Regions from separate parts of the Homo sapiens genome. Here regions 1, 3 and 4 are each reported to be linked to region 2. The links are microRNA targets in miRTarBase. Many come from high-throughput screens and were not tested one by one. Region 2 holds a microRNA gene; each other region holds the end of a gene's coding sequence.

What was found. The annotated mature microRNA hsa-miR-548aw reads GUGCAAAAGUCAUCACGGUU and lies in region 2 at 4,482-4,501, shown strand. An mRNA with a match to its seed (bases 2 to 7 or 8) in the 3' UTR can be bound and repressed. Matches are read on the target gene's strand: a 7mer-m8 pairs with bases 2 to 8, a 7mer-A1 pairs with bases 2 to 7 and ends in A, and an 8mer does both.
Region 1: the mRNA of CEP350 is a reported target of hsa-miR-548aw. Seed matches in the 3' UTR shown: 7mer-m8 at 2,539-2,545, 8mer at 3,858-3,865, 7mer-A1 at 4,202-4,208 and 7mer-m8 at 4,368-4,374.
Region 3: the mRNA of RGS16 is a reported target of hsa-miR-548aw. Seed matches in the 3' UTR shown: 7mer-A1 at 4,184-4,190.
Region 4: miRTarBase lists EMP2 as a target of hsa-miR-548aw. Seed matches in the 3' UTR shown: 7mer-m8 at 1,011-1,017 and 7mer-m8 at 3,265-3,271.

What each region holds. Positions count from the first base shown.
Region 1 is chr1:180,110,358-180,117,478 of GRCh38, forward strand. CEP350 (centrosomal protein 350) reads left to right here. Exons shown (of 38, transcript NM_014810.5): 38 at 640-4,518. The coding sequence ends at 804. Among named protein-coding and RNA genes, the nearest start is that of QSOX1, 41 kb to the right of the region's middle.
Region 2 is chr9:132,941,233-132,948,353 of GRCh38, forward strand. It overlaps MIR548AW (microRNA 548aw), which reads left to right and starts at 4,475; the gene lies at 4,475-4,539. It overlaps TSC1 (TSC complex subunit 1), which reads right to left and starts at 3,384. Exons shown (of 23, transcript NM_000368.5): 1 at 3,311-3,384. It also overlaps a transcript of GFI1B not described here. RefSeq lists silencers at 2,992-3,051, 3,112-3,171, 3,702-3,781 and enhancers at 3,256-3,989, 3,302-3,601, 3,962-4,101.
Region 3 is chr1:182,594,502-182,601,622 of GRCh38, forward strand. It overlaps RGS16 (regulator of G protein signaling 16), which reads right to left. Exons shown (of 5, transcript NM_002928.4): 5 at 4,122-6,012. The coding sequence ends at 5,791. Among named protein-coding and RNA genes, the nearest start is that of RGS16, 6.3 kb to the right of the region's middle. RefSeq lists an enhancer at 6,983-7,032.
Region 4 is chr16:10,526,612-10,533,732 of GRCh38, reverse strand. EMP2 (epithelial membrane protein 2) reads left to right here. Exons shown (of 5, transcript NM_001424.6): 5 at 641-5,311. The coding sequence ends at 828. LINC01290 (long intergenic non-protein coding RNA 1290) reads left to right here and starts at 5,535. Exons shown (of 2, transcript NR_149081.1): 1 at 5,535-5,641. RefSeq lists a silencer at 1-61 and an enhancer at 1-61.

The DNA of each region.
Region 1 (7,121 bases), not on the chromosome of region 2:
GGCCAGTGATAAGTGGTATGGGGGCAGCAGCAGCGAGCCACAGCTTGCAGTCAGCCACACCATCATGAGGGTAAACACCGATACTCTCCTGTGGACTGTGATGCAGATGATTCTGCCCGACTGTAGACCAATATACATGCTCTGAGCATGTTTCAGATGGACTAGGCTAAGCTATATGTTCAGTAAGTTAGGTGTATTCACTGCATTTTTGACTTAATGATATTTTCAATTTACTGCGAATTTATTGGACATAACTCCATTGTAAGTAGAGGAACATTTCTGTCTAATATTTTGTGTTTTCCTCCCATTAAATTCCTTATTCTCTTATGTTATGGAATTCCTTATGGAATACATATTCCCTTACGTTGACATTGACAACATACTGGTAATCTTTAATATATATGAAATACTTGAATATTGTCAAATGTTATTTTTGAAGTCATTTTGATATTTGGCAATTGAGGTTTTTTCAACTTTTTGCAATTTTAAAAGGGGTATTGATATCATATGAATTATCTTTTTTCTCTGGTTTATTTCCTTGGGCTGTATTCCTATGGATAGGACTACAAAGTCAGCAATTATATTTTCTAGCTTTTGTATGACAGGAATTTTCTAACCTTATTGTCTTCTAAATCCTAGGTTCAGGAGCTCCATGAGGAGGAGGCACAGTGGGTGAACTATGATGAGGATGAGTTGTGTGTGAAAATGCAGCTAGCCGACGGGATCTTTGAGACCCTGATCAAAGATACTATTGATGTTCTGAATCAGATCAGTGAAAAGCAGGGGAGAATGCTACTTGTGTGACATCTTGCAAATAAATCGAACGCTGAGTGCTAATGTGAGTCCTGGGCCTTTCTGCCTCCTGATGTACACCCATCGCCATCATAGCAAGAGTGCTTCTGGACCTTGTACTTATTCTTAAAGACTACCAGTATGGAGTTCATAGGACAATGTGGTACACCTGGTATTACAGCCTTTGCCTTTCGAGACTATCCACTGGATTAATGGGTTATTTTCAGTGGGCAGGGTTGCACAGTGTAATCCTACACCTTTTGCTAACACCCCTACTAGGTCCCAGAGGGCCAGAAACACCTGACTTACCTCTGAGTTTAGACTAGGGTATCACTTCTTTGAGTCTGAAGTCAAGTGAGAGAGGTATAGATAAATGCATCACATCACTTTTGAAATGTAATTCTGGTCTATACCATGGAAGTCATAAATGGACATTATAGTCTCTAAACAGTATTAAACCCTTAACCACTTCTAAAATAGGCAAGCTCAATAATGTCTGCCAACTTCACATTCTGGAGTTTATTTCATTTCTTTTTGAAGACCATTTTCTTCCATTATTGTAGTTGAGCAGCACCAAGTGGACTGTCAGGCTAACAGGAATAAGTGGTAGCCTTGCTTTCTGAGCACCATCTAAAGAATTTTAAACCTCTGCATTATGTTTAGTGTTCTCTGTGTGGGCATGAAAACAAAGAAATGCCCCTACTGAAGACTGGGCTCAAAGGACCAATGCAGGGCTGGTTCTTTTACCCCTTGGTTTACTCCTGCACTTGTCTTACTCATTCTGAATCTCTACCAGCTGCTCCCAGAATCACAGATACTCAGGACCATCTCAGGCATCCAGGCATGGCAAAGTGGAAATAATTCATTTTGGCCTGCAAACCTTCAACTCCCATCTTTCCCCAAGAAGTCAGAGATGCTGTTACTTGAATGATTTAGGAAATGAGTGTGTGCACCAAAGACAAAAAGATATTGTCTATTGTTTGTGTGCTTGTTTTGCGCTATGGAACATTTTTTAATTTATTTTAAGATAAATTATTAAGTTGAAAATGTGTGTCCCTATTCAGAAGTGAAAGATTCATCTTGTAATAGTTAAACCTCCATCTTGAAGCTTCTATGGTTCATAGTCTTTGCACAGGAACCTGTGGTTTTAACAAACCAATACACATATTGAAGAAGTCATTTTAATTCAGTGAAACGAAGATGGGCTTTTCCAGATCACCTGCAATAGCAGCAGTGGGATAAAATGATTTAAAAACACTGTACAATTTAACTCTGCCTCTCTTGCAGCATTGCTTCTCACAACTATTACCTGCATCTGAAAAAAAATCTATAGACTCCAGCTGCTACATTAGAGCATAAGAGATGCTCTCCTGGGACCTCAGTACCCTGCCTTCTTGACTGGTTTCCGTTCATCAGTCCTGTCCCTCTTCAAGTAATCTAGAAGAATGTGGATACTCTTAGGCGTGAATGTAAATGCCTTAATATTGAAGGTCCTGGTTAGAAGCATGATACAAGACATCTACTGGATTCATATTTACAAATATCCTGGAATGTTATAGCTTCAAAGTATATTAGAAAAACCCCAAAGATGGTATAATCTTTAAGTGTGCACGTTCGTTTATTTCTGCATCTTCCCTCCAAACTTGCCTTTGCATCTTAAATATTTCACTATGCACACTCCCATTCCTCTTGGGTTTCATCTTGTCGTTTAAGAAATGTACTGAAATAATCATTGGAATATTTGCATTTTGCACAATGACTGGTATGATAGCTCTTGACAAATAAGGAAAGCACTGAAATGTTGTGATTGGGTCTCGGGAAATGCTCAGATTGATGTCTTACCAGCATTTCTTCTGGGCTTGTGATGTTGAGCTGTAGTCTTGTAGCCATAATGAGCAAATTGACTAAGAGAAGCAAAGGTTTCTTGGGGTTATTAACCAGTAGTGTGGAAATACTAGTTTTATGTGGCCAAGGAAAAGCAAAGGCTTTTCTTTTCAGTTTGTGTTATTTGGAAGACAGAAAAACATCTTGTCTACATCCTTTGGCTGTTTGTAGGATCACGTTGTCCTTACGATACTGAAACTTTACAGCTGCTGTAAATTTTTTATAAATGAATTTCAAAATGTTATAATGGGACTGTAGGTTGTTTTTCTACATCTTCATTATTTGGACCTAAAACCAGTTTTTAATAAGAAAGTTTATCTTTACTCTTTCTGAAATTATGACTCCAGAAAAAGAAAAAAAAAATACAAGTCATGGAATCAGCAATCTGGTAAGAAATGCTGCCAAGAATGTGGCAGTAGCTGTCCTGACAGACTCCAACTGTCTTTACTATCTGAAGAATCCTAGGCTCCACATGAGAGGCAGAAATGGATCAGTCTTATTCTTTTCTAGAAATGGTTATCTGTAGTTTGGTAGCAAAAAAAAAGAAAAAAGAATCCATAATTAGCAGATTTCTTATTAACTATTTGGATCTAATTGAAATGGCTTTATTCTTAGGATTAAGAAAGATAGATGTGGATACCCAGCCACTCGTTCCATATTGGTATCTTTTTAAATCAGCTCTGCCTCTTAATCAAGAACCTAAATATTCCCTCTTTCTAATCTTTGTTCCTTCTCCCTACACCCTCATCCTCTTTCACTCTTCCTTCATAATTCCTCTAAGAAAAATATCTTTGCATCAGCAGTAATATCTTTTAGAATAGCACTATCAGAATTTAGCAGTAAACCAACATACAGGCTTCAGATTTACTTCTGAGTCCAAAACAATTTGTGCTATCCAGGGTAGTTAACTCTGGGTTAAACAAGTACAGGGTATAGATTCCCTCTTCAGGTCTACACAGGAATTTTTACCATAGGGAAAAGTGGGGAGAGCTCAAACGTAGTTAATAAGGAAGGTAATTTGTTTTTCTTTTACCTAAAAGAAAAGAAAATTCCTTCTGTGACTACAGGTCTCTGAGAAATTATCTTTCAAAAGAGATTTCATTGCTCATAAGAGTGTTGTGGCCTATTGATAAAAACAATTTTGTTCAGTTTCTTGTCTTGAAAAAAAAGTGGCCTTAGCTTTTTGCAATACTTGAATAAAGTGTGTACTCGCAAAAGAATTTCTGTAGCACAGCATTAGAGACTCATAACTTTTCTGCAAGAAATACAAACTTACATCTTCCTTTTACTACCTTAAGAATACTAGTGAATAAAACATTAATTCAAAGAGCAAATTATAGAAACTACAATGACATTTAATGCAAATTGTAGGAATTTACATGTTTACAAATCATCTTCAACTGGTTGTGCAGCAATTCAATAAAATATCTTTGTATTATAAAAATGTGAAGAAAAAATGTAAACTGATGTAAAGGAGGTACTGTCATTTTAATTAACCTATGTTTAATAGCTTTTCCTTCTGGACTTTGCAAAGCCTTCTTGGCAAACACATTGCAAAGCATTCTCTGGGAGGTTCAGCCTCCTTGTGTGTACTGTACTGTGCAGACATGAAAAAATAAACCCGTTTACTGTGTGCGTGTAAATAGCCTGGTCATCAGGCCATTTTCAGCCAATAGTCACATCCAGTGCAATTTTGCACCGAACACTTAAGGGTGTGGTTTGTAAGTACGATCTGTAAAATAACTGGGATGAATTCCCATGTATACCTGTGTAAATAGATTTGTTAACTGAAATATACTTTAAGAAAGATAAAATCTGTAAATAAACTGATTTATAAATTAATTTCATGTCAGGTCTCCATTTTTTCCCTCCTGAGCCAACTTCAGAAAATTAGTCCCCATAAAATACATCTGATTGCTTATTTAGTCATAGGGTGCTGATGCTTGGACAGTACAATCAGGTAAGCTGTGGATAAGAGCTATTTACCTGCACATAAATGCCATCAGCACATACATTTGAGCAGCCTGGGCTTTGCTCCCACACTCATTGATTCAGCAGATAGCCACTGAGCAACTTTGTGTTCTGAGTACTGTGCTGAGTGCTGGAAACATAGCAAAAAAGACAGACATGGTCCCTGATCTCAAGAAACTTAATGTCTAATGAAAGCCACCAAAAGATATTTTGAAAACCTGTGTGACAAGTTCTAACAAGTGCTGCACAGGAAGCATACATAAGATTTGAGAATATCTTAATAAAAGGACCCAACAAGGGTAGAGTGAGTCAGGGAAGAGTTCTCTGATAAATTATAACTGTTTTATGAGCTTCTTCCTTCTAATTCATGGCAAATGCCATTTCTCCCAAATGACCTAAATTTTGATAACCCTTGCAAAATAACACATGGAAGAGTCACACTCAAGTGGACCACAAAGAAGAAGTGCAACCAGCTGATGCCCAGGTGTGGAGGCTGTAACTTATTTCTGGAAATATGAGCTTGGAGGAGAATGAAGCTGAAGTGATAGAAGAATAAAAACAATCCAAGGATGGAAGTGTACAGCACTCAAGATAATGAATTGTCTCTGGTCTGACAAATCGGAAGTGGTAACCACCATCATCTTACCTGAATTCCTCTAGTTTCCCCCAGATGGCCATCCCTGCTATATCTTTAATCCCTACCACAACCATGAACATTTCGGAAATTCTCAGAAAAAGATTGGCCCCAAATTACAGTAGGTCCTAAGAAATTCTTCCTCTCATAAAACAGATAGTTGAGACTGGGCATGGTGGCTCACACCTGTAATCCCAGCACTTTGGGATGCCAAGGCAGGAAGATTCCTTGAGCCCAGAAGTTCGAGACCAGCCTGGGCAACAGGGTGAGGCCCCATCTCTCCAAAAAACTTTTTTTTTAATTAGCGGGGCACAGTGGCACACACCTGTGGTCCCAACTACTTGGGAGGCTGAGGTGAGAGAATCCCTTGAACCCAGGAGGTCAAGGCTGCAGTGAGCCGTGTTCATGCCACTGTACTCCAGCCTGGGCAACAGAGTGAAACCTGTCTCAGAAAAAAGAAACCAGGTGTTTGAGTCCCTACTATGTGCCAGATACTGTGGTTGGTGCTGAGGACACAATAGTACAATAGTAATAACAAATAGAATCTTGGAAAAAAGACCAAATACCTGTAACCTTGAATCAAAATATATGAAAGTGGCAGTCAAGAGGATGGCAGTTGACATGGCAGAGCCAAGAACAATGAGACCAACACTGGGAGAAGTACAGTGGTGAATGTCTCCAGGAGGGAAGCCAGTCACGCCCCACATAACGGTCAACAATGGGCCGTATGTACAGCGTGGTCCCGGAAGATTCTGTATAATGGAGCTGAAAGTGTTCTATCACCTAAGGAGGTCATAGCCATTGTAACATTGTAGTGTGACACATTACTCGCGAGATTATGGTGACGCTGGCTGGTGTAAACGAACCTACTGTGCTGCCAGTTGTATAAAAGTATACAGTAATGTCCTAGCCATTCATGTTCACTCCCCACTCACCCACAGCAGCCTCCAGTCCTGCAAGCTCCATTCATGGTAAGTGCCCTATATACACATTCCATTTTCTATCTTTTATACTGTGATTTTACTGTTTTCTATATTTAAGTTTGTTTAGATACCACAAATTCTTACCATTTGTGTTACAACTGCCTACAACGTTCAGTACAGTAACATGCTGTACAGCTTTGTAGTCTAGGAGCAATAGACTACACCATATAGCGTAGGTGTGTAGCAAGCTATACCATTTAGGTTTGTGTGAGTGCATTCTACGATGTTCACACAACAATGAAGTCACCTAACGATGCATTTCTCAGAACATATCCCAGTGGTTAAGCATGCATGACTCTGCTGAGGAGAAACAGCTAATGCCCTACAAAGTCCCAGCAAAGCTCAGGAATTGGAGGCACTGGCTGCCACAGTAAAAGGTGCAAAACACGGAGATTGTTTCACCATTCGCTGGGTGTCCAGGCTGTGCAGCCAAGGTCAAAAGGCAGATACGTGCCTCCCAGGGAAGAGACCAGTGCATGACTCAAGGTCACTGAGGACAGACAACACACACATCAGGCTCAGGTGGCACAGTGTTTATTTACACCAAGAGGAGACAGTGCAGGAGGTTCAGCCCCTTGCAATGCATCAGCCCTACAAGGGCAGTAGATCCGCTCCACCGTGAACACAGGCGATGTGACTGCAAGTGCCCCACTTTGTGCTGCAGTGGAAGGACCCTCCGTCTCCGCCATGGGGTCTGAAAGGCAGAAAGCTGGGTGTGTATGAGGACCATTGACACATGAGCTTAAGCAGAACAAAGGAGTACACGTTGAGTCTGCAGTAGGACAAGATATTCCCGCTCATGGAGATAAGCCCCGCACAGGCTGTAGTGCTCTTATCTCTCAGTAAGGAAGTGTTCC
Region 2 (7,121 bases):
CACTGAACGAGAGAAAGGACAAGAAGAAACTGACAAGGTCCTGAGACAGTGTATTTTATACACAGTATATAAAATTTGCATTTTTATTCTCTCCCATGAAAACAGACATAAAGTTACTAATTTCTAGCAACTACAGTCTTAAAAAGTAAACCAGAGAAAGAATAATCTCAAACTGCTGACAGTTTACCTCTTTCAGATGAATTTAAATGGAGAATGAGTATTTCATGCTACCCAAATTATATTAGTTACCAATTCATGATCTGAGATTAAAAAAAACAAACTCAGTGTTTGAGTGTATACTACATATACACATTTCAAGCAAACAGCCACAGATTTTAACGCTATTAAGTACACTTTTCTTTCACGCCTTCAGCTACTTAAATGACAAAACCAATGCAAAGACTAACCTTTCAGAGATTTATAATATGGGAAACTTATAGGGAATTACCTTTTCAAAGAGTATTATGATGTAAAGGAAAGGATAAATGATAAACAGATCTTCACCCAACAGGGTAGGCTCAAAGTCACCAATTTGCTTGGTTTTTATAAAACCATTAACAGGTTGACTCAATCGATTTAGTCAGAATATTTAAATGACACCCCAAAGGACTTTAAATCACAGAAATGTAGGCCTAGAAATACTCATTAATTTACATTCCAACTTTTACTTCACAGATGAAGACACAGGCTCACAGAACTTAAGTGACCCACTGAAGGTCAAAAGCTATCTGACTCTCTAGAAAAGCCTGAAATGGTTGAGATATTGCTATATTTGGCTCATCGGCATTCAAGAATATCCAATTAATTCCAGGAAAAGCTAATTTTAGTTCACTATGGCCCTGGAACCCAGAAATAAACATACCTGTAGCCAAACAAACTTCAAATGAAGACAGAGCTATAAGAACAAGTCAGCTCTAATTCAGAGCCCAAAATTCACCCACCACTACACAAATAAAAGGCTACAAGCTATTTTAAGAAATACCTCTGTGATAAATAATAAATGAAAATAGCCAGAATGATACTTGAAGCCAGTGGTCCTCAACCTCCGGTGCACATAAGAATCAGTCTTCTTCCAAAATATATATACAAGGTGTCCGAATATGTAGGTCTACCTAGTATAGTGCCAAATATCTGTACATCAAGGTTCTCATGAGCACTAGGGTTTCAGATCTCGTTTCCACCAAGTTCATTATTCTGCAAACATTACATATAGAGGTATATATTAGATTTGCCCTAGTAAGACTGTTAAGTTTCATCTCACGAATGAAACCAGGCATGCACAGAAGGCATCATATTACACCACAACAGTAGCAGTATCAGTTTTTACTCTTAACCCAGTGAGGAAGAGGACAACTGAGTCACAGGACCTGAAGCACTCTAATTTTATGGAAACAAGAAGGCTGGTAGCCACCTGCTTTCTAACCAGGAATTTAGGAACGTACCAAGTGTTTATGACACCAGGAAATGCATGCAGCAGAGAAAGTTTACATCATCTGCCCTTCTAGGCACGTGATATAAGAGTGTTTTGGATAAGATATTAACTTTAGTAAGAGGATATTTTCCGTTTACATCTTCTATAAATACCCCTTAAGTTTACACCAGGTGGTTAGAGGAAGATTCTGCAGCTCCCTAGGGCAATAGCAAAGAATGTTTCACTGTTTCTGAGGAGCCTCATTTGCCTGATGCATGACTGTTAAAGGTGCATTTCCCTACACAACCCTAAATCAGTTTTCACATTTGCATATTCCAGATTTACTCAGGAATGTTCAATTTAAGAATCACAGGTGGTTGCTCGGTAAATCAAAGGCTCCCCAAAGATTAGGTTTTATAATGCTTCCTGAAATTTACAGCTCCACTTTGCCGGCCTGTTTGAATTCAGATGACTCCAAGTTGATCCCAAAATTATAAATCAAAGTATCTCAGAAGAGTATTATTCTATTTTAGCACTTTTATAGCTTACTCTATGCAACGTGAAGTGTTATTTGTATGCTTTCTATTTAAAAAAAAAAAAAAGCCAGCAAGGATTTTAGCAGGACTTCTTTCTTCAGTAAACTCATCAGTTTTATTAAACTATCAAATACTTTTTAGCCTAATTTAGACTAACAAGTTCACATGCACAACACTGCCATCCCAAACAAAAGCTAAGGCGGATAAGCCAAGTGCATCCCCCCACTTCAACATTAAACAGACACACGTGCATAAACCTTGGCTAAATGATAAATTTTAATCACTTACAGGCCAGCTTTGATCAAATAACAGATAAATTTAAGAGTCATATCTTTGGAGTCAGTCAGATCCCAGCAGTTCCAGTCCTGGCTCAGATACAATTGGGGTGTGAACTTAGGCAAAGTACCCTGCTCTCTCCGGGCCTCAGTTTCTTCATTTGAGAAGATTGGAGGTGTTAACAGTGGCTGCCTCTTCTCTTTGTCGTGAGGACCAAAGGAGATAATGACTGCCAAGCACTTTCACAGTGCCTGGCACACAGAGAGCACTCCATTAACGTTAGCTGTTGTTCTTAGGAGGACCGCGTCCCCTCCCAAGTCCTCACCACACATCCAAAACACACAAAGCAAAACTCTTTAACAGGAAACACAAAGAAAGAGCTTTAATTCTACAAGGTCCCTCCGATTGCAGGCTCTTCATCCTCCAGTTCCTCAAATGAATGAATGAACGCCTAGGAGGGGCTCTGCAAATAGCTGTCTCTTAGGAATCCCCTTTGCCCACTTTAAGGTAACTGTCTTTCACCACCAATTAAACACCCACAAGTACACCCAGAGCGAGTCATGCAAATTTCAGCGGAGACACCGAATCCAGGCGAGTCCTTGATCCCCACAGGCGACCTCCATTCATTCTCCACGCCCCTATACCCCGACCCCTCTCTTTAAGTTCTGGGACCAGCCCCACCCTCGCGACCCTTCCCCTCCCGCCAAGCGTCTCTACCCTGCCCTCCGCACCTAGCGTGAACCTGTCACCCCACCAAGTGAGGGACTGACGAAGGGGCCCACCTCGCCCCTGCCCGAGGGACCGAGGCCCAGGGTGCAGCCGTCCCCTCGGGGGCCAAGGAGGGGCGAAGTGCTCCGTCCGGCTCGCCTCTCCTCCCCAGGGACCCGCCAGTCCCGGCCGGGCCAGCCGGAGATAGCGTGTAATAAGAGGGAGGGGAGAGCTCTCCGAACCCCCCTTCCCCGGGATCCCTACCAAGCAAGTGAGTCTCTTGCTCCAGCCCCTCCGAGCCTCCCCGGCTGGAGTCATGGTGCCGGGGCTGCCCCAGGAAGCCCCCATAAAAAGGAGGGGGAGACACCCCCATACTCACCCACCGTCTCCTCCCCCTCAGCTGTTTACCTCACAGTCCCTCCAGCCTACAGGGCGCCGCCATCTTGGACGTACAGCACCTCCCCCGTCGTGAAAGGGCCAAGGCCGACGGCGGCCTCCGCCACGAAAAAGAGTCCCCCTCCGGACCTCCCCTCCTTCTCGAAAGGAAGGATAGACGGCCGCGCTCGGCAGCCCCGCCGGAAGGAAGAGGCTCTTCCACTCATAACTGACGATGTGGGTTGGACGAGAAAAAAAGTAAGGAGGGTTTTTATGGAGGGGGGCGGGGCCGGGCGGAAGGATCCGAAAGGAGGCTGCGAAGAGATCTTGTGACTCCGCGAAGGAGGCAAAAAGAAGGGCCGGCGCGGCGGGAGGAGCCACGCGAGAGCCCGAGGGGGCGGGGCGGGCGGTCACGTGACTGGCGGGCGGGGGGACGCGGCGGAGAGGCGTAAACAAGCTGGCGGCGCCTGGGTGTGGTTGGAGCGCCCTGCCCCTGCCCCCCGAGTCGTTTCTGCCCTTCGCTTGCGTGGCGCCCTCCGAGGGTCTCTCTGTGGGCGGCCTCAGAGCAGCGATCCTGTTTCCCAAGGAGCTGCTGGGGCCCGCGTGGGTGAAGGGCCTGCTTGGGAGCTTTGGAGTTGCAGCTCACCTGGGAAGGGGCGGAAAGCTGCGGGCCAGGGCAGCCCTCCTTCCTGGGCTAAACATTTTCAGAAGCCCGCCTCCGGGATTGCGGGGGACCCCCCTGGCTTCTGCCTTCAAGTAGCTCACACTTCACACCTACTCATGACATCTAGGGGAAACCAGCCCTAATAGGAGACAGCTTGAAAATCAGAACGCCTTATTCCGTTTCCTGCTGAAACAAGGCTTTAAGTCCTCCAAGCCTCAGTTTCTTCCTCTGTGAAATGGGCATAATGACATCTGTGACGTGAAGAATCAAGGAGATGAAGTATGGACAGCGTTTAGCCCAGAGTCCTGCGCCTAGTAAATGCTCACTCACTAGATAGGTGGCCTTTATTGCGAGGCTGAGTATGATGGGCTCCATCCAGCACGAACACAAAGCCCTGTGAGAGGAGGCAGAGTGAGATGAAGTCGAACTGTGGGATATGAAAGGCATTTTGAAGGAGTAGGCATCAGGTTGGGTTTTAAAGGAAATGTAGGTTTTGTGAAATACTAGGTCGGTGCAAAAGTCATCACGGTTTTTACCATTAAAACCGCGATGACTTTTGCATCAACCTAATAGAACCAGGCGAGGCGGCTCGGGAGAGAAGGCCATTCCAGGCAGAGGGAACCAAAGGAGCAAGAGCCTAGGGGCAAAAAAGTGTTGGGTGAGTTATGGGAATAACAGGTTTTGTCATGGGAACCAATTGGGTCACAGTGCAAGGCAGCCATGGTTAAGGGGGGCCAGGTGTGTGAGTAGCCAGCACCGTGGGTGCCTTCAGAATTCTGAAAAGGCCCTGGATGGTATCGGGTAGAGCCGCTGCTAGTCAGTATAGGGCCTTGGTGAGAATTAGAAAAATGGCACCCCTGGGCTGTATTTTGGCCCCTATCCACCAGCCCCAAACCCTCCTGGGCCCTTGAGCAGTGAACAACCTTTATAACCATACGTCTAGAGCCACGAAGGCTTAGGAGGGAGGTGAAAATTGAACTGATGATTCCTCTGTTCTAACACAGTCGCTGGGGGGAAGCTAAGAGTTCTAGATTCAAACAGACCAGAGTTTGAATGTAGGTTTCAGCCATCATGTTCTAACTGGATGAGCCTTAGTCTCCTCACCTGCAACATAGGGCTAATAATAATGCTAGTTCATGGGGATTTGGGGTGAAGTCAGTGAGTCATTAAGCTCTAAGTGGCACAGAGCCTACTCCAGTTAATGTTATTTTTGATAACTGTTAAGTGCCAGCTGTCAGCATCCATCACTTCCAGAAACGGGTCCACCAAACACTAAATTCTTCTGTGTCACCACCCAAGCATAGTCTGCATGGGGTCCAGAGATGGAAAGGTCGAGGGAAACGGGGAAGGGTCTGGGTTCTCTCAGTTCCACCAATCTGCAAACTACTTTACAGGAACAGACTCTTCCCTTTGCATTCACACCAGGGAAGGGATTCAAGATTTCTGAAATCTTCAGAGATTTCTGAGACCACCAGTGATGGGAGACCTAAGGAGGAGGGCAGGGGGAGCAGCACTGCTCTGGAGCTCTGACCCAGGAAGCCCCCCCACACCCTGACCTTCCTTGGCTCCATGACCTCATCCTGCAGGAATGCATTCTGCCATGGAGGAGAGCAGCCATAAGCAGAGCTCATCAACTGCTCACTTTCCAGGGGGCCATAACCACATTGTCACTGTTTCTACACTGTCTGGAAGAAGAATGGGCATTGTTACCTCAATATGGGACCACCAGGGGCTTGCAAGAAGAGGCTGAAGGTGACAGGCAGAGACAGCTCTACTACCATCTCCTGCCACTTACCAGGCTGGGCCACCTAGATGTTTTCTGCTTCTCTGGGGTTGATTTTTGTCATTTGCTCAACAGACACTATTCAGACCACTACCTTCCATACACCACCCTGGAGCCTCCCTGTGACGGGGCTTCCTGACCGGCCTGTCTGAGCATGAAAGGGCTGAGCCCTCCATAGGCGGGCGTGCTGACAGGATGCACGTGGTGGAGGACATCTGCTGCATTTGGCTGTGTGACATCTCCCCCTCGCCTTCTGAACAGGTGAACCGCCCATCCTCAATTCTTTCAGTGCTGATGGTCCTCACAATCACAGTACCAGCCCCAGGCCACAGCAGGTGGACCAGGCCTGGCCAATCTGAGATGCCCATCATGGAGCTTGTTAAAAGAAAGCTTAAGACAAGTTCAATTAGATTAAATTTAATCGAGCAAAAAAAAAAAAAAAAAAGAAAGAAAAAGAGAATTCATGAATCAGGCAGCCTCTAGAATCAACAGATTCAGAGAGACTCCCGGGGTCAGAACAAATTTATAGACAAAGTAAAGTGGCCTGGCGCAGTAGCTCACTTCTGTAATCCTAGCAATTTGGGAGGCCAAGGCAGGTAGATGGCTTGAGGTCAGGAGTTCGAGACCAGCCTGGCCAACATGGTGAAACCCTGTCTCTACTAAAAATACAAAAATTAGCCAGGCGTGGTGGCGGGTACCTATAATCCAAGCTACTCAGGAGGCTGAGGCAGGAGAATCACTTGAACCTGGGAGGCAGAGGTTGTAGTGAGCTGAGATTGTGCCACTGCATTCCAGCCTGGGTAACAAAGAGAGACTTGGTCTCCAAAAAAAAAAAAAAAAAAAAACTAAACTAAAGTGACATACAGGAATCAGAAGTGAGGTACAGAAACAGTGAGATTGGTTGCAGCTCGGCGTTTGCCGTATTTGAACAGTTTGAACACTCAGCAGTCTATGAGTGGTTGAAGTATGGCCGCTGGGATTGGCCAACACTCAGCTATTGTTACAAGTGCATACTACTAAGTTAGGTTTTCAATTTTGCGTGCCTATTAAGCTAGGTTACGGTTCGTCCACAAGGACTCAAATATAAAAGTACGGAGTCCTTCTCAGGCCATATTTCATTTGCTTTAACAAGCTGAAATGGTTGGTCTACAGTGGACCTGTGACTTGAGCTGGACTAGAGTGCTCCTCTGGGTCTTTATAGATGGGTGTTTAAAAAAAAAAAGCAATTTTTCTCTTTCCTTTGGGGTCACTAAACTGCGATGAGGAAGCTGTGGCCTCTCCCTTCCCCCGTCCTACAGCAAGGTGTGTGACAAGTCGAGTTAAAGAGTGAAAGAGACAGAGATGGAAAGAGAAATTCATGCTGCTATC
Region 3 (7,121 bases), not on the chromosome of region 2:
TTTCTGTGTCTATATAATGAGGATGATAATAATAGTAGCTAACTCATAGGAGTATCATGAGGATTACAGAAATTAACATACGCGAAGGACTTAGAACATTGCCTGCCACATACAAGCAGCTACCATTTTTGAACACTTACTTTTAAGTGCTATGATAAATATTTTTCCTAAATGTTCTCATTGTCATCACAAAAGTCCTATGAAGATAATATTATTGTTATTCACATTTTACAGGAAAAAGTGAGGCTCTGAGAAATTGAGTAATGTGCTGCAGTTTACTCAGCTGATAAATAGCAGATGTGGAACTTAATTCAGTTGCCTAACTTCCGAGCCTGCTGACTCCATGATTAGGTTATACCACGCTGCCTGTGAGGCTGCGCCTTGGAACTGTGAGATTAACTGAGCTAAGGCAATTCTCCTCCCCGGCACGGAACTGTCCCTTAAGTGGCATCCCATTACAATCATAAGATTAATCCACACATTGTTGCTTTTCTCAAAGATTAAATTAAATCATTCTCCAGGTTACAGATCAAAGCTTGAAAATCACCAACACTGTGAATCAAGAAACATCTTTTCTAAATGATGGGGACTCCAACTCCATTATCCAGCGCCTAACCGCCGTATATCTCTTACCCTCAGGAGCACACCTCAGTTATGTAAGTTTCAAGTCTTTCTTTTCTTCCTTAAAGCAATTTGAATAACTGGACCAATTTAAAAGATTCGTGACAGTAAATTACTTTGCAGTCAGCAAGGCAATAGGCCCTGACACTTTTTTTTTTAATTGGAAGTTTTGCTCTTGTTGCCCAAGCTGGAGTGCAATGGCGCGATCTCGGCTCACTGCAACCTCCGCCTCCTGGGTTCAAGCGATTCTCCTGCCTCAGCCTCCTGAGTAGCTGGGATTACAGGTGCGTGCCACCATGCCCGGCTAATTTTTTGTATTTTTAGTAGAAACGGGGTTTCACCATGTTAGCCAGGCTGGTCTTGAACTCCTGACCTCAGGTGATCTGCCCACCTCAGCATCCCAAAGTGCTGGGATTACAGGCCTGAGCCACCGCGCCCGGCCCCCTGACACCTTTTTTCTCTCTACCTTACAGCTTCCATTTTTAAAAGTAATTTCATCCCTATAAACTAAAGAATCTCGGTTTAACTCCTATACCTGCTGTGCTGTCTCAGTAGTGATATTAATAATTCTCATTTCTGTTAAAATTTCACATGTTTATTAAAATGCATTAATAAATAAAACTACAGTGAAACAAATGAAAGCCATTGGATGTATAATTCCAAAGGAAGAAGCCAAACTTTAAAAGCTTGCATTGCCTGGCATGGCCACAGTGAGGCAGTAGAGGGTGAGAGACAAGCAGCCTCGCACAGTCACAGGGCACATATTTGAAAACAGCGTTGGCTGACCTGGTTTCCAGGAATCCCATGGTCCCTCTAATACCCTGGCTTACTTAATGCCTCCAGCCTTCCATTTCTTTTTCTGAAATTCTGGAATGCTGTAAACATCAGACAAAATATGGTACTGAAGCAGCTAAAAAAAAAAGTAGATTTAGAATCCTGAGTTGAAATTCTGATCCTGCCATTTTATTCAAGAAGTCAAAAGACTTTTTGACTTGACTAATGCCTACTGTATACAAATCACTGTGCTAAGTACTGGGAATCAGATAATAATAATAGCCAATAGTCATGAGGCATTAACATTGTGCCGCACACTTTTATTTCATTCAGTGTTCCCTGTGACGCTTACTCTTATTATCCTCATTTTACAGCTGAGGCTTAAGCAACTTTCCAAGGTGAATGGCCAGGATTCCAACCCAACATTCCGGCTCCACAGCTGGGACTGGAGAACTGCTTTGCTGTAGTCTGTTCTGCCCCATCTCACCAAGGTGAATAATATGACCCTGACTTTGAAGAGCTCAGTTTAATAGGAGAGCAAAAGCCATGAAGAAAGAAGTTATGGAGGAATACCATATGTGCTACAATCAAAGTAAGAACACTGTGTCTTAGAATCATGCAAGTTGGGAGCAATTAACTCTGTACAGGGACATCTGGGAAGGCTTCACTGAGGAGGTGATGTTTTTGCTGGATTTTGAAAGTTGGCATTCTCCTCCTCGCACCTCAACCCCCAATTTTTTCTAAAAAAGAGGAGAAAGAGGTGTTCTAGGCAGAGAGAACAGCATGTGTAGCCACAAAAAAAAAAAAAGAGAGAGAGAGAGAAGGGAAAAGTCTGAGAATGAAGGCTGTCCAGGCAGGAGATACGTCTGGAGAGGGACTTGGGTCAGGTCAGAGACCCCCTTGTGTGTCAGGATTAAAGCTGGACTTTATTTTAGAGTCAAAAGTGAACCGCTGAGGGGTTCTAACGTAGCCACAAAGTGCTCAGATCTGTGCTTTAGAGCTGAAGACTGGCACAGTGTGGAAAATGAACCAGCACAGGGAGAGGCTGGGGTAGGGAGACCCGCCGGGAAATTGTGGTATCTGATTGGAGAGGATGAGAGAGTCCTCTAAGGAAGCCTTGGTGAGCCTGTGCAGAAGCTGGACCCAACGCATTTGGGTCTGAGGGATTTCGATGCACTCAATACATGCATGTTAAAGGCATAAAGATGGAAGGAGAGCAGTAGGAAAGGGCGAGTGTTAGTACCTCCCTGTCTTTCTGGGTCCTCCGCTCTTCCTTCCCTTATCAGTCACATTCCTCCACCCATCTTTCACAGACTGGACTCCCCATGGCATAACTGAGTTCAGATCCCCATTCTGCCACTCACTGGCTGGCTGCCCCAAGCATGTCCCTCCCTCTCAGAGCTTGTTTCCTTCTCTGGATGATAAAGTGTTCAGACCCACTCCACAGAGCTGTTGTAAGGACTAACAGAGCTCAGGGCCTGCCACAGTGTTGGTCCCTGTCTTCCTTCCCAGGCCCTTAATTTCAGGATCCTCCCTGGTGTCACCCACAGAATCCCTCCTTAGATCTGTGCTTAAGATGTGATTCTATGGGGATTTCTACCCCATGTTCCTGAAGTCTGATCACTTTACTCAGACTATCAATAGGGAAGAAATAAAGGTTCATTTAAGGTCCAGATCTGTGTATAAACAGATCATTCAACAGAGAAGAAAACATTTTTTTAAGTAGTCGTAATCAGAAAAAAATGAGAGGGATTCAGTAGGATGAAAAAGGAGAACAAGCAGGCAATTAGCAGAGGAAGAACAGATTTTGATCCTTGCAAACCTACCCCCAGGGTCTCACTGTGTCCCCCAGGCTGGAGTGCGGTAGAGTGATCTCAGCTCATGGCAGCCTTGACCTCCCCAGCATAAGCCATCCTCCCACCTCAGTCTCCCAAGTAGCTGGGACTACAGGCATGTGCCACCACACTCTGCTAATGTTTGACTTTTTGTAGAAACTGGGTTTTGCCATGTTGCCCAGCCTGGTCTTGAGCTCCTGGGCTTAAGTGATCCACCCTCCTCAGCCTCCCTCCCTCAGTGCTCACAGGCATGAGCCACCGCGCCTGTCTCCGTACCCCCAAATTCTTTCAAGCACAGTTCAACCCTTATTCCCTTGGCCCATGGAATGGAGCAGCCTCATGTACAGAGTGGCTTCATATACCTCATCTCAGATACTTCTATGAAATTATAAAAAGAATAATAATTTCTTGAATATAAATTACAAAAGATTTGTAATTGAATTTAATTACAAATTACTTTTAAAAGTAAAAATCCTACAAAAGTCACCACCTAACTGATGATGTCTTGCTACTTGACCAAGGGGTACTGACCCCTGCACTGTTACAGGCAGAATTGGAAATGGCTCATGCCGAGTCCCAGCCAGGTGGGCAAAAGATACGGGCTCTGAAATGACAGTGGGCTGAGCCCAGTCCAATCCACACAACAGCCCAACACAAGTGGGGCTGTCACGAGCTTAAAAAGTCACTGATCATAGCAGCCTCGTTAGAACCTATCCCTTCTCTTGACTCTGGCAGGTACCAGGTGAATATCAAGCTCTCCCTGTACTTCTGCCTGTGCCATGGAAGCTTACTCGCCTGTCCTGTGGAATTCCCAAAAGCCAGCTCCTCCCCAGAGCTCTCCACAACACTTCCCCTTTTCCCCTGACCCACACAGCACTTGAAGACAGGATGTCATATTTGACTTTTGCTTTTATTTTATAAGAATATAACATGCTGAAACAGGAAAATGGGGATTGCAAACATCATTCATATCTAGGAAACCAGCTCCATTTGTCACAATAAATAAATATTTAAACAGTGAGGAGTTCCTGACAGGCTCCAAGAGGTTCCCAGCACATTCAGAGGTAGAGTCTGGTAGAGAAAGGGAGACAGTCAGGCTGAAACCCCTGCTGAGATTCTCCAGTAGAGGCAAACTGAAATTACAATAATAAATAACAACAGCACCAACAATAACAAAAACAATGTTATGACAATCACAGAAAACCAATGATACAATACACTTAAATAATCTCCTGGAGGAGCTCATGGTACAGAGAGAACAGTGTTGATTATCCTGGGCCACAAAGGGGCTGCCCTGGGTAGTTCACTTCCCCAGCCTGGGCTCTGCCGCAGGAGTTGCCATCAGGAAATGTTTGTTCAGTGATGCCCTGAGGTGACAGGCAGGTTCTGATTATCCCCAGTCCTGCCCTTCGAAGCAGCCTCTCCCCCCAGCTTCTGCACTCTAAGGGTGCCATGGTCCTGGGCCACCTCTGCCCACTCCAGTGTTCATCTCACGTCTGCAGGAAAGAAACACAAGGCTCCCCTTCTATCTCGGGGCATCTCTTTTTGCCTGTTCTCATACCACAAAAAACACTGGCTGGATTTCAGCAGGACTCTCAGGGACCGCCAAGAGACTTATTTCCTAGGATCCTTTTCTGCCTTGTTCCACACTGCGGGGCATGAGAGCTGGAAAAGCCACTCCCCGAGGCCTCCACACTTTGTTCTCCTGGGCCCTGCCTCCAAGAGACAGCACAGAACTCAGAGAGGGCACATCCAGGAAGAGGCCCCAGGGCGGGCCTGCTCACAGGTGGACCCTGCTGCAACGCAGGGTCAGGGGCCACCTGCAGGGGGCCACCCAGAGCACTGAGCTGGATTCAAGTGAGCCTCCTTTCAGGGCTCTCCACTGACTTGGAAAGGGCTCACAGGCCAGTGTTTGAGGTATAAATATCTCGCATGGGGCAAGAGTCACATCAGCTTGCTGGCCTTGACATGACTGCAAGGCTGGACAGACACACAGGAGTGTTACGAGGTACAAGCTAAGGGACTCTGGGCTAGCCCAGAGGCCAGTGAGGAGGGCCAAAGGGGAAGACTCCACATCCAGGGTCCCTTCCGTGCCCAGAACAGTCTGGGAATTAGGAAAACAGGATGCAATCAGAGTCAACTGAGCAACAGGCAAAACAGCTGATCTGGATGTCTTTCCTCCTCTCATTTTCATGGTTCCCTTTATCCACATGTTTCCTAAACCACACTAGAACACTTCCTTCTCCGGTGAGAACGAGAGCCAGTGCTAACCCCCATACCACCTTTTTGCCCCACAGAGAGCCCCACCAACCCTCATCATTAGCCCTTATTCACAGGTCCTGGAAGTGGGCGGCTCCTCTCCAGCATGAGTCCCACAGTATCTGAAGGAGAGACTGCTGCTTCCCAAACAGGCTGCTGGAGCGCATTTTTTTTTTTTTTTTTTTTTTTTTTGTCCTCTTGCACTTGCTTTGCAGAACCTGCCTCCCACACAGGGGCAGCCACCTCGGGGATGGGTGACTCAACCTCTCTTCCCGGCTGGCTTCCTCACTGCCGTGGAGACTCAGGTGTGTGAGGGCTCGTCCAGGCTGCAGCTGGACAGAGTGGCAGAGGCGGCTGAGGCTTGGGCAGCCAGGTCCCGGTAAGCAGGCGACTTCAGGAAGCGTGGGTAGGAGTCCTTCTCCATCAGGGTACGTGTCTTCCCCTGAGCCGCATCAAAGCATGTGGCTGTGGCAGTCTGCAGGTTCATCCTCGTCAGCTCGTGGGTCTCATGGTCAATGTTGACCTGCGGGAAGGAGGACACACACAGGGTGAGTTGGGGAAGAGGGTGGGCATGGCTGAGGGAGGGCCAACGGCAGGCTGGGCATTGGAAAGAGCATCGGATGCTGCATCAGGAAGTGGGGGCTCCTGAGTTGATCACTAGCTTTTCAGCTCTGGGCTTGTACCCACATCTGATCCAGTGTCTGTCCTCCAATCTCTCAGAATTAACATGAGGATCTATCAAGAATGTATACAAACGCAATCCCCTTTCACCCTTTCTTCTACAGCAACCCTGCTTCAAGTCACTATCAGCTCTCCTGGGATTTGCACCAAGGCCTCCTACCTGGTCTCTCTGCTACCTTACCCCCCACCCCTGTGGTTTGTTCTCTACCCAGTCGCTACAGTGAGCCTTTAAAAACCCAACTCAGTTTGGTAGCTCCTCTGTTGTCTCCTCATGTCTTTCAGAAGAAGAGCCAAAGGGCTTGCTGGGCCCACGAGGCTCCCCAAGCCCACACCTGGCCATCCTCCTCATGCCTGACCTCATCTCCTGCTCTTGCCCTGCTCTACACAGGTCCATTTGCTCATCCGTGACTGTGACAGGCAGGCTCTGGCCATTGCATTTGCTGCTTCCTGTGTTGGAATGTTCTTCCCTCCCTGAATTCTTTCTTATCTCTGTTCATATGTCCTCACTTCCCTTTACAGAATGGAAAACCTTACGTCTTCCCAGGCCCTACCTCTGGTACTCCCTGTCTCTCATTTCCTGCTGTATTTTTATGAGTGCATAGCTCATCACCTGGCATATATTTGTCTAGTTGGTTATTGGCATCTTCCCCCATTCAAATTATAAGTTTCATTAGGTAAGGGACTTTGTGTGGCTCACTGTGACATACACAGTGACTGTAACAGTGTCTTGAATATAATTGGGGCTCAATACACCTTTACAGAATTATGTGGAATCAATCAGCGGTCAGAAAACAAAAATAAGGTACAAAAGTAAGGCATTACTCTTATCTTTCCACCAGGTGGCGCTGTGTTCTTTAGCAAATGCAGCTGCCATGCGTTTAGCGGCCAGGAGAGAAGGTAGACAAAAAAATCACAGACCACAGACCAGCAGGCCTCAGGCAGGTCAGCCTG
Region 4 (7,121 bases), not on the chromosome of region 2:
AAGAAGGTTGGCAAACTATGGCCCATAGGTCAAATCTGGCCTGCCACATGTTTTTGTAAATAAAATCTTATTGTAACACTGCCACTATTATTCATTTTTGTATTGTCTATAGGTGGTGTCATGCTACTGTGGCAGACTTGTGTGACCATGGCCCACAGAAAACCTAAACTGCTTACTGTCTGGCCCTTTACAGGGTACGTCTGTGGACCTCTGGCTTAGACCAATTATGTTCACCCTCTGGGTTGGTGATGTGGCTGCCCAAACAAAACTGGGTTTAGTTAGCAAGAATGGGAAGCAAAATAGCTACAGGGTAGGTGACAATATCCTTCCACAAAATATCAGTTGTAATTTTTCCAATAGACTAAAATAAATACCTATTAATAATAAGAGCTTAAGGCTGCACGCGGTGGCTCACGTCTGTAATCCCAGCACTTTGGGAGGCCGAGGCAGGAGGATTGCTTGAGCTCAGGAGTTCAAGACCAGCCTGGGTGACATGGCAAAATCTTGTCTCTACAACAAAATAATAATAAACAAAGAATAAAAGCTGAAGTTTGTCTTCAACTCTGGCCGTATGCCCCTGGGCTACCCAGGGTGCACTGTGGTCCATGATTTATTGAAAATTCACCTTTCTTCCTGACAGGTCTGTGTGTCATGATTGCGGCCTCCATTTATACAGACAGGCGTGAAGACATTCACGACAAAAACGCGAAATTCTATCCCGTGACCAGAGAAGGCAGCTACGGCTACTCCTACATCCTGGCGTGGGTGGCCTTCGCCTGCACCTTCATCAGCGGCATGATGTACCTGATACTGAGGAAGCGCAAATAGAGTTCCGGAGCTGGGTTGCTTCTGCTGCAGTACAGAATCCACATTCAGATAACCATTTTGTATATAATCATTATTTTTTGAGGTTTTTCTAGCAAACGTATTGTTTCCTTTAAAAGCCAAAAAAAAAAAAAAAAAAAAAAAAAAAAGAAAAAAGAAAAAAAAAATCCAAAAGAGAGAAGAGTTTTTGCATTCTTGAGATCAGAGAATAGACTATGAAGGCTGGTATTCAGAACTGCTGCCCACTCAAAAGTCTCAACAAGACACAAGCAAAAATCCAGCAATGCTCAAATCCAAAAGCACTCGGCAGGACATTTCTTAACCATGGGGCTGTGATGGGAGGAGAGGAGAGGCTGGGAAAGCCGGGTCTCTGGGGACGTGCTTCCTATGGGTTTCAGCTGGCCCAAGCCCCTCCCGAATCTCTCTGCTAGTGGTGGGTGGAAGAGGGTGAGGTGGGGTATAGGAGAAGAATGACAGCTTCCTGAGAGGTTTCACCCAAGTTCCAAGTGAGAAGCAGGTGTAGTCCCTGGCATTCTGTCTGTATCCAAACCAGAGCCCAGCCATCCCTCCGGTATCGGGGTGGGTCAGAAAAAGTCTCACCTCAATTTGCCGACAGTGTCACCTGCTTGCCTTAGGAATGGTCATCCTTAACCTGCGTGCCAGATTTAGACTCGTCTTTAGGCAAAACCTACAGCGCCCCCCCCCTCACCCCAGACCTACAGAATCAGAGTCTTCAAGGGATGGGGCCAGGGAATCTGCATTTCTAACGCGCTCCCTGGGCAACGCTTCAGATGCGTTGAAGTTGGGGACCACGGTGCCTGGGCCAGGTCAGCAGAGCTGCCTCGTAAATGCTGGGGTATCGTCATGTGGAGATGGGGAGGTGAATGCAACCCCCACAGCAGGCCAAAACCTTGGCCTCCATCGCCACAGCTGTCTACATCTAGGGCCCCAAAACTCCATTCCTGAGCCATGTGAACTCATAGACACCTTCAGGGTGTGGGGTACAGCCTCCTTCCCATCTTATCCCAGAAGGCCTCTCCCTTCTTGTCCAGCCCTTCATGCTACACCTGGCTGGCCTCTCACCCCTATTTCTAGAGCCTCAGAGGACCCATCCACCATTCATTCATTCATTCATTCATTCATTCATTCATTCATTCATCAACATAAATCATAACTTGCATGCATGTGCCAGGCACAGGGGATACCCTCTAGAGACAATCTCCTCCTAGGGCTCATGGCCTAGTGGAGGAGACAGATTAAAACTTAATTAGAAAAACTGGCTGGGTACAGTGGCTCATGCTTGTAATCCCAGCACTTTGGGAGGCTGAGGCGGGTGGATCACCTGAGGTCAGGAGTTCAAGACCAGCCTGGCCAAAATGGTAAAACCTGTCTCTACTAAAAATACAAAAATGAGCTGGGCGTGGTGGTGCATGCCTGTAATCCCAGCTATCAGGTGGCTGAGGCAGGAGAATCACTTGAAATGGGAGGTGGAGGTTGCAGTGAGCCGAGACCGTGCCACTGCACTCCAGCCTGGGTGACAGAGTGAGACTCCATCTCAAAAAAAGAAAAAAAAGAAAAGAAACTAATTACACACTGTGATGGAGGCTGCAAAGAACACCACTAAGAATTCAAAATCAGCTGGGTGCGGTGGCTCACACCTGTAATCCCAGCACTTTGGGAGGCTGAGGCAGGTGGATCACAAGGTCAGGAGTTCAAGACCAGCCTGGCCAACATGGTGAAACCCCGTCTCTACCGAAAATACAACAAAATTAGCCCGGTGTGGTGGCAGGTGCCTGTAATCCCAGCTACTTAGGAGGCTGAGGCAGGAGAATCGCTTGAAACTGGGAGGCGGAGGTCGCAGTGAGCCGAGATTCACCACTGCACTCCAGCCCAGGCGACAGTCTGAGACTCCGTCTCAAAAATAAAACGATTCAAAATCGAGGCCTGTGGCATGGTAGGGAGGCTGCTTTACGCGTGCCTATTATTAAATGCTCCTGGAGGCATTTAGGTATTTAGATCAGTCTAAATATAGCTCCATTCAGTTCGTGCAGATGACAGTTATTGGGCAGTACCTGTCTGTGTAACACCCAGAAAACATGTCTGTGGAGGGGCCCATGGTCCCGACAGTAAATGCGGTGAGAGGGTCCCATAGAGCTGGAGTTTTCAAGCTTTAGGGGTTCCCGTGCTGCTTGGGACAGGCTGATTCAGAGGGTCTGGGTGAATGATTTCCAGGTGATTTTAAGACTGTGCTGAGAAATAGGGCTTTTGGGGCCTTGTCCTTCAGGATCAAAGCATGATGCTGTGTGGCAATGCAGACCACCCAGGAACCATCCCAGGAGATAAGCTCTTTGCACCTCATTGTCTTTTTCTGCTTATGTTGGAGCAGGATGCTGGGGGCTGTCCTGGGATGGGGTGTGGGACCTCGTGCTATTTAAATACTTTTGCACTTGACCTTCTGCTGAGTGGAGTGGTGGTTTGCCATCAGCTCAGTTCCAGTGGAGCTGAAGAGACATCTGGTTTGAGTAGTTTTAGGGCCACCATGGATATCTCTTCAATGCAGGATTGGCTCTTTCCATCTGCTCTTTCATTCATTTGTTTTTGACAGATAGTATTAAATGTTTACCATGTTCCAGGCACTGTGTGAGGCTCTGAAAATACAGGGGTGAGCAAATCCAGATATCCTCCCTGCCATCATGAAGTTTGGAGTCTATGAGATAGGACCCCCTCCCTATGGAGAAGCCACCAATGCAGTACAGGGTGACCTGGGGCCAGAGACAGGACAAATGTCACCTCCTGCCTCCATGAGATACTCTCACTAGTCATATTGTGGGCAAGAATGTGGCTTACACCCCTAGGGTTAACAGGATGCTACCCAAGCTCATGGAGGAAGTTGAATCTTAAGTTCCCTTGAAACTTTCTACCTTGGTGGCTTTTCTATAATTTTCTTTTTTCTTTTTCTTTTTTTTTTTTTTTTTTGAGACTGAGTTTTGCTCTTGTTGCCCAGGCTGGAGTGCAGTGGCACCATCTTGGCTCACCGCAACCTCTGCCTCCTGGGTTCAAGTGATTCTCCTGCCTCAGCCTCCCGAGTAGCTGGGATTACAGGCATGTCCCACCATGCCCAGCTAATTTTTGTATTTTTAGTAGAGATGGGGTTTCTCCATGTTGGTCAGGCTGGTTTCGAACTCCCAACCTCAGGTGATCCGCCCACCTCAGCCTTCCAAAGTGCTGGGATTACAGGCATGAGCCACTGCGTCTGGCCTTCTATAATTTTCTGGTAGTCACGATGGAAACAAACAAAACACCTTAGAACCAGAGATCGACCCCCTCAAGCAATACATCAATTCCCTTCACAAGAAACGTCGGGGCTACATGAGTATCTGTGTTGAATGCGGTCTGAAATGATCCTATGGATTTTCCCGGCTGGTTGCCACTGCTGTACAACATTCAGTGCCCACATCCACCTGTGCCATTAAGCTTTTTTGAGACATGAGAGATGCCTCTTCCCTGCTGTATGACATGCATTTGGGAAGTTGGAAAGAAATGACAAAATCAGGGAGAAAACATCCAAGCTTCTTACCTGTAGATAGAATCAGCCCTCACTTGGTGCTTATTACCAGTTATTCAAGAACAATAACAACAACAAAATTAGTAGACATCCAAGAAGCACATATTAGGACCAAAGATAGCATCAACTGTATTTGAAGGAACTGTAGTTTGCGCATTTTATGACATTTTTATAAAGTACTGTAATTCTTTCATTGAGGGGCTATGTGATGGAGACAGACTAACTCATTTTGTTATTTGCATTAAAATTATTTTGGGTCTCTGTTCAAATGAGTTTGGAGAATGCTTGACTTGTTGGTCTGTGTGAATGTGTATATATATATACCTGAATACAGGAACATCGGAGACCTATTCACTCCCACACACTCTGCTATAGTTTGCGTGCTTTTGTGGACACCCCTCATGAACAGGCTGGCGCTCTAGGACGCTCTGTGTTCACTGATGATGAAGAAACCTAGAACTCCAAGCCTGTTTGTAAACACACTAAACACAGTGGCCTAGATAGAAACTGTATCGTAGTTTAAAATCTGCCTCGCGGGATGTTACTAAACTCGCTAATAGTTTAAAGGTTACTTACAATAGAGCAAGTTGGACAATTTTGTGGTGTTGGGGAAATGTTAGGGCAAGGCCTAGAGGTTCATTTTGAATCTTGGTTTGTGACTTTAGGGTAGTTAGAAACTTTCTACTTAATGTACCTTTAAAATAGTCCATTTTCTATGTTTTGTATAATCTGAAACTGTACATGGAAAATAAAGTTTAAAACCAGATTGCCCAGAGCAAGACTCTAATGTTCCCAACGGTGATGACATCTAGGGCAGAATGCTGCCATTTTGAGGGGCAGGGGGTCAGCTGATTTCTCATCAAGATAATAATGTATGGTTTTTACACTAAGCAACTGATAAATGGACAATTTATCACTGGACAATCTCCCTCTGCTTCTTTAATGGGGCCAGCTTTGCAGCCCTGCAGCCTGGGTAGTCGCACACATTTCCATGCATCCAAGGCCCCCATGCTTGGGAGAATGATCTGCTAGTGCCATTTTAAATTATTTTATATGTATTTCTTGTAGAGACAGAGTCTCGCTGTGTTGCCTACACTGGTCTAGAACTCCTGGCCTCAAGCGATCCTCCTGCCTCGGCCTGCCAAACTGCTGGAATTGCAGGTGTGAGCCACTCACTGTGTCCGGCATAAAGTAGAACATTCTTACAAGAAATAAATATTTCGTAGTCATGGAGAAGAACGCTCCTAAAATGTATGTATCCGTTCATTCATCCATCCATTCATTCATTCTTTTATGGGGCGGGGGGTCTGTTGCTTATGCTGGTTTTGAACTCCTGGGCTCATGTGATCCTCCCACCTTGGCTCCCAAAAGCATTGAGATTGCAGGTGGGAGCCACTGCGCCCGGCTTTAAAGTTCTTCGTATTTGAACAAGCAGCCCCATATTTTCACTTCTCAGGGATCCCCACAAATGACTGATCCTGTTTGTTTTTTAACCTTCCTGTTCATTGTTACTAGATCATGTTCTTTCATTTCATTTGTATTTAATAAAGACCTCTGCTTTAAAGGATGAGGTCATGATGGAATGAGACTATCTTCTACCACATATTCTGCTGAAAACTGAAAAATTCAGACAGAGAAGGAGAGAGAGAGAGACAGACAGATCCCTTTAGCTTCTATCTAAGGAATGCCAAAGGTAGCAAAAGCTATCTTTGTATCTTGAGAACACTCATTTCCATACTGTCACACAGGGTTTACAAACTAAAATCTTCAGAGGCTACTGTCTGCCTTCTTTGTGTTTCTAGATTGGATTTTTTTTTTTGTCCATATGGCTGGGGGATGGTGATCACCCCAGAACACTCAATTTCATATTTCTTCCATTCAGGAAATCAGCCTCTCATTCATTCATTCACCAAATATTTGCGTAGCTGTAATGGTACAAGCATTGTGCTAGGTGTTATGGTGACATCCTGTGCCTTTGTCTCCATTACATACTATGAACTTTTGGAAGGACATGATTGAACCTTTACCACCCATTACCAGGCCATAAGGAGCCCCAGCTGGACACAACTGAGATCACAACACATCACCCATCGCCCTGGAGTGGGAGCCGCCTTAATGAACTCAGTCCCTGCCTTGATCTAGATAATATTAGTCTCAGTTTCAAGTTTCCAGGGCTAGATTCTGATGGGTCTGTCTTGGGTAACACACTCACTCATCATTGCCCCAGTACTTGGCTGGAGTCAGGAGTGAGATCAAATTATGCAAACATGCGGGTCGCGGTGCAGTGGCTGATGCCTGTAATCCCAGCACTTTGGGAAGTGAAGGCGGAAGGATCACTTGATGCCAGGAGTCTGAGATCAGCCTGGGCAGCACAGCGAGACCCCATCTCTATAAAAACTACAAAATTAGCTAGGCATGGTGGTGTGCTCCTGTAGTCCCAGCTTCTCAGGAGGCTGAGGTGGAGAATCGCTTGAGCTTGGGAGGTCCAGGCCGCAGTGAGCTGTGATGACGCCGCTGCACTCTAGCCTGGTGACAGAAACTCTGCTTCAAGAAATAAAAATTCTTGTACATTCGTGAAACGAACTAACCCCTTCCCAAGAGGGATCTAACCTGAGGTCTCAACCGGCTTCCACTTCCAGCTCCCACTCCAGGGCGATGGGTGATGTGCTGCATCTCAGTCGGGTCCAGTTGGGGCTCCTTATGGCCTGGTAATGGGTGGCTAAAGGTTCAA